Linked DNA regions of Homo sapiens. The protein of the gene in region 1 purifies or fractionates together with the protein of each later gene. This does not show direct contact. Each region holds a gene or a part of one and is shown on either strand. Other genes may lie near its edges. The genes, in order: RASGEF1B and COL1A1.

Evidence for each region.
Region 2: the proteins of RASGEF1B (region 1) and COL1A1 purify together in Homo sapiens (affinity purification with mass spectrometry; 2 studies listed by BioGRID and IntAct, with this or other methods). This does not show direct contact.

What each region holds. Positions count from the first base shown.
Region 1 is NC_000004.12:81,426,667-81,430,682, forward strand, and holds part of RASGEF1B (ras-GEF domain-containing family member 1B), read right to left. Parts: intron 1,127-4,016; coding exon 1,102-1,126; 3' UTR 1-1,101. UniProt on the Homo sapiens protein: Guanine nucleotide exchange factor (GEF) with specificity for RAP2A, it doesn't seems to activate other Ras family proteins (in vitro).
Region 2 is NC_000017.11:50,195,132-50,198,631, reverse strand, and holds part of COL1A1 (collagen alpha-1(I) chain preproprotein), read left to right. Parts: intron 1-127; coding exon 128-199; intron 200-426; coding exon 427-471; intron 472-629; coding exon 630-683; intron 684-846; coding exon 847-900; intron 901-1,398; coding exon 1,399-1,452; intron 1,453-1,568; coding exon 1,569-1,622; intron 1,623-1,961; coding exon 1,962-2,015; intron 2,016-2,103; coding exon 2,104-2,148; intron 2,149-2,264; coding exon 2,265-2,318; intron 2,319-2,432; coding exon 2,433-2,477; intron 2,478-2,655; coding exon 2,656-2,709; intron 2,710-2,966; coding exon 2,967-3,065; intron 3,066-3,153; coding exon 3,154-3,198; intron 3,199-3,301; coding exon 3,302-3,400; intron 3,401-3,500. UniProt on the Homo sapiens protein: Type I collagen is a member of group I collagen (fibrillar forming collagen).

The DNA.
Region 1 (4,016 bases):
ACAATTAGATCAACCATTGAGTTAACAGCAAGGTGTTTTTCATCTGTTTTGTTTACTGCTATAGTGGGGACAGGTAACTTCTCCAATTTATTCTTTGTTGACATCTTTAGTTACCAACAGACTCCCAAAAGTAATGAAAAGTCGATTAAAAAGAAAATTGTAATTATGCCATGGGTTTTCCCAAGATCCTTAAAGTCAGCTCATTTAAATTTACAAGAGAAAAATAACAGGCATCATGGAAAACTAAGTAACAAAAAGCTATTGAAAAATACATCTGTGGAACACAGTGGTCAGTTGTAAACAGCTCAGAAGAGCAAAAAAAAAAAAAAAAAAAAAAAAAAAAAGTCCTTCTAGCATGTTAAGCAGTCCAATGACAAACTCTGCTTTTTATTTTCTTTCTAGTGGCTATTTTCCTACCACAGTGTTGAGCTTCATTATTATATTAAATAACTTATATGGGTAAAAAGGAGTTTGCTAACCAGCAGCCAACTCAAAACCTTGTAGGAGGAGGGAGGAGAAAAATTTACAACACAGCACATACTAAGGGGAAACAAAGTCTGCAGTCAGCTTCCAACCAGTCTTACCCCTCTCTGGCAATACTGATTGAGCTAAGGTTTGGGATCTAAACGGGGGGGTTTTAGATCCCCTCCCTCCACTCCTTTCTTCATTTAAGTTAACAAAAGAAACGTGGGCTTCCTCAGAGCCAGCACTCAGCTGGGCAAGTCCCATTAGCAGCAAATGTTCAACCAAATTAAAAAAAACACACACACACAAAAGAAAACTCCATCCAGGTGCAGAGCTGTGATTCACATGGAAATTCCAGGAGATGAATAATGTGCAGAGCCGGGATTTTTAGAGGATTCTTTCTCAAGTGTCTTCAGTGAACATTTCAGTCTCACAAAATCTGAGTCTATCTGTCAGCTGCAGGAAATAAGTTCTCCATCTGGTCTTGAGTGAGCTTGTGTGCTTTGCTGACCCGGGTGCTCCAATGACTGCAGGGTCTTCATGAGTGTTCGTGGTACGAGATGCCAGAAAACAAAGGCCAGCCCCTCCATGATCTGCAGGAAGCAGCAGCAGCAGCAGGCAGGCAGCTCCCATGTGTTAAACTCTGCCTAAGAGGCTCGACCTGAGTAATAAAAACAACACAACCTAAGACAGAATGTAACAGACTACTTGAACTAGGATGAAAATGCCTTGTGTAATACTAATTTTATCTTTCCTGTGTTTTAAGTTTGATTTTACAAAGTTAAACCAGGAAAAAAAAAATCAAGCTTTTAAGTCCTATTGGCTCTCTGGGAAAACTGCCAGTCACTTAAAAAACAAACATTTATTAATGGAGATGGCAAAAGCTTAAACAGATAAATCTATATCTTGCGTAGGTTTATATTATAACAAAAACAAAAAAAGCAAAGATCATTAATGATAAAGAGCTTTTAGGTACAGGTTATCACAGATAGATTTACTTGGTAGATATAAGCATCTTCACAACACATTCCATGAACACTGGGAGAGTTTAAACAATAGTTGACAATAAGGGTGTCTGCCGTCAGAGGTGTATCTGCCACTGATGAATCTACGTGTCTGCAATGAATGGCTCTAGGGCCACCAAGAAAAGCATCTATGTAAAAATATCTTACTGCCTTCAAAGCTAATGTATAAAAGTTTTCAGGTAGGTACAATGATTCCAGAATATAGTCAGCCCTCTCTATCTGTGGGTTTTGCACCTGTGGATTCAATCAACTGCAGATCAAAAATATTTGAAACAAAAAATATGGGTCTGTACTGAATATATACAGACTCTTTTTCTTGCCATTGTTCCCTAAGTAATATGGTATAACAACTATGTATATAGCATTTACATTATATTAGATATTGAAATTAATCTAGAGATGATTTATGGTACAACAACTATTTACATAGCATTTACATTATATTAGGTATTATAAGTAATCTAGAGATGACTTAAAGTATAAGAGAGGATGCATATGGCTATATTCAAGTATTATCTATTTATTATTTTGAGTTTACCCTAACAGGTTATGTGTTATTGAATCAGTAAGACTGATGGCCACAAGAAAAGAATATTTCTGAAAACAACAGCAACAGAAAGTTTCATTTTATTATACCAGGGACTAGAGCATCCTCAGATTTTGGTATCTGCAGGAGGTCCTGGAACCAATCCCCCATAAATACCAAGGGATGATTATGCTTAATCTTAGTATCCACTTAACGTATGTATTTTGTAAATTATAATAGCCTGTTTTATTTTGTTTTAACTTCTTCGTGGTTGCTATGCCTTGGCCAACACCTGCGATAACCCAGTACCATTCAATGACACTACAGGAGCATGGGCTGACGAGTAATAGAGAGCAAGACACTGTGTCCAGAGCTGGGGCAGACATTAGGGGAAGACCCTGTGCTTGCCCTCAAGGGGCTTACATAGCAATAGAGAAAACCACAAACACTACACAAAACCACATGGCTGGTAACGAGAGAGGAAGAGTGCCTCCTGAGTGTATGAGTTCTGGAGAAATTCTTTCTAGGGAAAAACGGGCCAGGGACGGGGGAGGCATTGGAGCTGGGCCATGAGAACAGACAGGATATGGAAAAGGCAGAGTGTGTGGCTTGAACACCAACACAGATGAGAGCTGTTCTTCAAAGCTCCTTAAAAAACAATTTTAACGTGGAAACTGTCTTTTATACCAAAGAATATAATTTTCATTTCAACCAATTGATACGGGAGTGCTGGGAGGGGAAGAGCACGGTCCCTTTAAATGATACGGAATGGGGAAGGGAAGTGCTGGGTAGAGAAAGGCAGGTCCCTGGCTAGGGCTCAACCCCCACGGACCTAGGTGAGGACAGACATTTCCTGCCCAAATGTTGCATTTCCCAAGACCACCCTGGCCCACCACGCCCCCATCTTGGGCCTATAAAAACCCGAGACCGCCGGCAGACAGACACACAAGTAGCTGGACGTGGTGAGGAACACATCTGCTGAAGAAGACGCAAGTGGCGAGTCGTCGAGAGGACATTGAGGGGAGCACACTGGTAGAAGGGCACGCCGGCAGGGCACACCGAAAGATGCCAGCACGCAGGACAGACTGGCGGGATGAGGCGGAGTTTGGCAGGGGCAGTCTGAGGAGCGGCTGGTCGTCGAGAGGACACTGAGGGGAGCACGCTGGCAGATGGGCACACCGACATACGCCAGCACACTGGCAGGCCACTTACTGGCGGGACGAGGCGAAGTTTGGCAGGCGCAGTCGGAGGAGAGCCTGGGCCACTGAGTGGCCCCACTCCAGTGTAAAAACATCTCCCTTTGGGCTCCCCCATAGGCGGAGAGCTACTTCCACTCAATAAAACTTTGCACTCTCACGCCTGTAATCCCAGCACTTTGAGAGGCTGAGGCGGGCGGATCACGAGGTCAGGAGATCGAGACTATCCTGGCTAACATGGTGAAACCCCGTCTGTACTAAAGATACAAAAAATTAGCCGGGCGTGGTGGCGGGCGCCTGTAGTCCCAGCTGCTTGGGAGGCTGAAGCAGGAGAATGGCGTGAACCCGGGAGGCGGAGCCTGCAGTGAGCCGAGATCCTCCCACTGCACTCCAGCCTGGGCGACAGAGAGAGACTTCGTCTCAAACAAACAAACAAACAAAAAGCTTTGCACTCATTTTCCAAGCCTATGTGCGACCCGATTCTTCCAGTACACCGAGGCAAGAATGCTGAGATACAGAAAGCCCTCTGTCCTTGCCATAAGGTAGAGGGTCTAATTGAGCCGGTTAACGCAAGCCACCTATAGATGGCAAAATAAGGGAGCGCCTTGTAATACAGGCCCACTGGGGCTTCAAGAGCTATAAACATTCACCCCTAGACACTGCCGTGGGGTCGGAGCCCCACAGCCTGCCCACTGGTATGCTCCTCTAGAGGTTTGAGCAGCAGGGCACTGAAGAAGGGAGCCACACCACACCCCCATCGCATGCCCTGGGAGGGGCACAAGGGAACTTTTCCCATTTCACAAT
Region 2 (3,500 bases), on another chromosome or scaffold:
AAAAGCAATGTTATTCTTCTCAGCACATCACACCAGGAAGTGCATGATGTCAGTTTCTTCCATCCTCAGTGCCGTCTTCTGCCTTTCAATTCACTGTCCTCACTCTGACTTCTCTTGTTTGTTCTAGAACTTTGCTCCCCAGCTGTCTTATGGCTATGATGAGAAATCAACCGGAGGAATTTCCGTGCCTGGCCCCATGGTGAGCCAGCAGGGGGAGCATGGATGACAGAAGAGAGAATGGGTATCCAGAGGAGGTGGGCATAGGCGGCTGGTATAGACAGCTTGGGAGGTCCAGATCACCTTTGGGACCTCAGAGTCCAGAAAGGATGCAGGACGACTGGGTGGTCCCAACAGGCATGAATGACTACATCCACATGCTTTCCTACAGAGGGATCACCATGACCCCCCTTTCTTCTCCCTCTATAGGGTCCCTCTGGTCCTCGTGGTCTCCCTGGCCCCCCTGGTGCACCTGTGAGTATCCAGGACGTCTTCATATGCCTCCTTGGGCTTTGGTCTTTTGGAGGGAAGACTGGGATGAGGGCAGGAGAGATGCTCAGAGATCTCTTGGTAAGATTGGAGAAGGTTGACAGGGACTTGTCTTCTAACCCATCTTTTTCCTTCTTCTCAAGGGTCCCCAAGGCTTCCAAGGTCCCCCTGGTGAGCCTGGCGAGCCTGGAGCTTCAGTAAGCACTCTCTATACAGATTCATACTCCTTCTACAAACACACAGACTCTCCTATAGAAGAACTCCCAGGCCTGGGGTCTTCCTTACCTCTTCCCTTCAATCCCAGCCTTCCCCTTCTTTTTTTCTTATCCATATTCTAACCACCTCTTCTATCTTTTCTAGGGTCCCATGGGTCCCCGAGGTCCCCCAGGTCCCCCTGGAAAGAATGGAGATGATGTAAGTATCCCCAGCAAGAAGATACCATCTGACCCCATGGCCTCCATGGGTTGGGTCCTGCAATTTCCACTCCACCACATTTGGGAACGATACTCAGAGGAAGGAGGGCAAGTCCTCTCTGATGCACGGACTGCCCTGGAACAATGATCTTTTCGCTTAGTGAGATGATTCCATGTCCCCAACAAAGTGACTGTTCTCCTCACCCCAGCCACCTTAGAGCAATCCCCAACCCCATCCCTTTGGGGAAATTGGTGCGCAGATGGTGAAATTAAAATGCTGGTGACAGAAGTAGACAGAAATTCCTTTAGAGGCACTCAGATTTCACCAAACGAAGGTTTCACTGTAGATTTAAACTGAGCTCTAGATTCAAAGATAAGATTCTGGGCCCCCAAACCTGACCTGCAACAATCCAAAGAAGACTGAGACCTTCTCCACTTTTCCAGCCCCTAGGCGGTGGTGGGGAGGCAGAGGCATGATGGTCTTTTCTCTCCCTCTCAGGGGGAAGCTGGAAAACCTGGTCGTCCTGGTGAGCGTGGGCCTCCTGGGCCTCAGGTGAGCAGGGGGCTGTGGCTGAACCTGGGCTTCACTGCACTTGGGCTTCATTTAGGAGCTGGGTCCACAGTGATGTGTTCTAATGGCCCTTCCTTGTCTTCTTCATCTCTCTCCAGGGTGCTCGAGGATTGCCCGGAACAGCTGGCCTCCCTGGAATGAAGGGACACAGAGTGAGTCACCTTTGAGTCATTTAAGCTCCCCAAGTCCCTAGCATACCCCCATCCAGTCCCAACCTCTTCCCCAAAAGATACTGAGTTGCATCATGGTGGGTGGCAGCTACAGAAGTCCCAAGGGACAGAGAGTGGACATCCAAAAGCACCTCCCTCCATGGGAAAGCAGTCCCGATTAAACGATTGGGTGAGATCTAGAGCCAGTTGGGGTTTAGTCTAGCTCAGAAACAAAGGGATGGCGGTGATGACCTCCCAAGGCTCTTTCTCAGATCTAGGTGGATGTCAAGGCTGTTCCACCCCCTCCACAGGTTCTTACCTTCTACCTCTTTCCTGCTTTAGGGTTTCAGTGGTTTGGATGGTGCCAAGGGAGATGCTGGTCCTGCTGGTCCTAAGGTAAGAGGCTGTCTGAACATCATGGTCCTCCACATCCCCAGAGTCCCACCATGAATGAATTTCTCACTCATTATTCTCTGATCTACAGGGTGAGCCTGGCAGCCCTGGTGAAAATGGAGCTCCTGGTCAGATGGTGAGTGTGCCCAGTTCCAGAGGGCAGGGATGGGGCAGGAGGCAGGGGCAAGATGGAGGCCTGGGGGAACAAGGCTGTCTCCCATCTCATCTGACTTCTCTTGGTTTGGTTGTCAGGGCCCCCGTGGCCTGCCTGGTGAGAGAGGTCGCCCTGGAGCCCCTGGCCCTGCTGTAAGTACTCCTGGCCCCTTGGGGGATCCCTGAGCTCTGGAAGGGGCTCCCCAGGAACTCTAGGGACTGGCCAGTGCTCAGTGGACTTAACGGGGCTTCCCCTCTCTCCTGCAGGGTGCTCGTGGAAATGATGGTGCTACTGGTGCTGCCGGGCCCCCTGTGAGTGTGGCCTGTAGGCCTCAGGGCCTGGGAGTGGGGAGGGGTCTCAGTATCTGCTCTTGGGGCTGACAATGGGAGCAGGTTATGTTGGTCTGAACCCCAGGACTTCCTCTGTCCCAGGGTGTGACTTGCAGCTGCCATCTCTTCCTTCTCGCTGACATCTCCATTTCATTCACAGGGTCCCACCGGCCCCGCTGGTCCTCCTGGCTTCCCTGGTGCTGTTGGTGCTAAGGTGAGACCCCCCACTCTCCTCTAAGCATGACCCTCATGGGCCAAGGGGTTCATGTCTCCCTGTTCCCCAAACCAAAGGGACCCAGAGTGGCAAGAGAGCAGCCCGTTCACTAACACCTTTGTCCTGGGTTCTCCGTCTCTGATCTTAGAGTCCTGATCATTGCTCTCCTGTCCCTGTCTCCCCTTCCTCCTGCCATCCCGAGAGGCAAGGTTGGGTTTCCCAGGGTGGCTTCTGATATGTCCTTTCTTCTGATTCAGGGTGAAGCTGGTCCCCAAGGGCCCCGAGGCTCTGAAGGTCCCCAGGGTGTGCGTGGTGAGCCTGGCCCCCCTGGCCCTGCTGGTGCTGCTGGCCCTGCTGTAAGTGTCCCCGACTCAGTGTCCCCTTTGCCACTTTCTAACCTCAGAGTCCTTGCCTGTTGCTGACACTCCTTTCTCTGTGCCACAGGGAAACCCTGGTGCTGATGGACAGCCTGGTGCTAAAGGTGCCAATGTAAGTATCCTGCCAGGCTTCAGTCCCACTCCTGCCGCCTGCAGCCTGCCTGCCCCTTTCCCTCTGCTCCTAGGCTCACGCCCTGGCTGTCTGCCTCCCACAGGGTGCTCCTGGTATTGCTGGTGCTCCTGGCTTCCCTGGTGCCCGAGGCCCCTCTGGACCCCAGGGCCCCGGCGGCCCTCCTGGTCCCAAGGGTAACAGCGTGAGTACCAAACTCTCCCTTCTGCCCACCCCATGCACTGGCTCCAGTGCGGCTCTCATCTGGGGAGCAGGAAGACGCAGGCCAACTGAGCGCCCCCGAC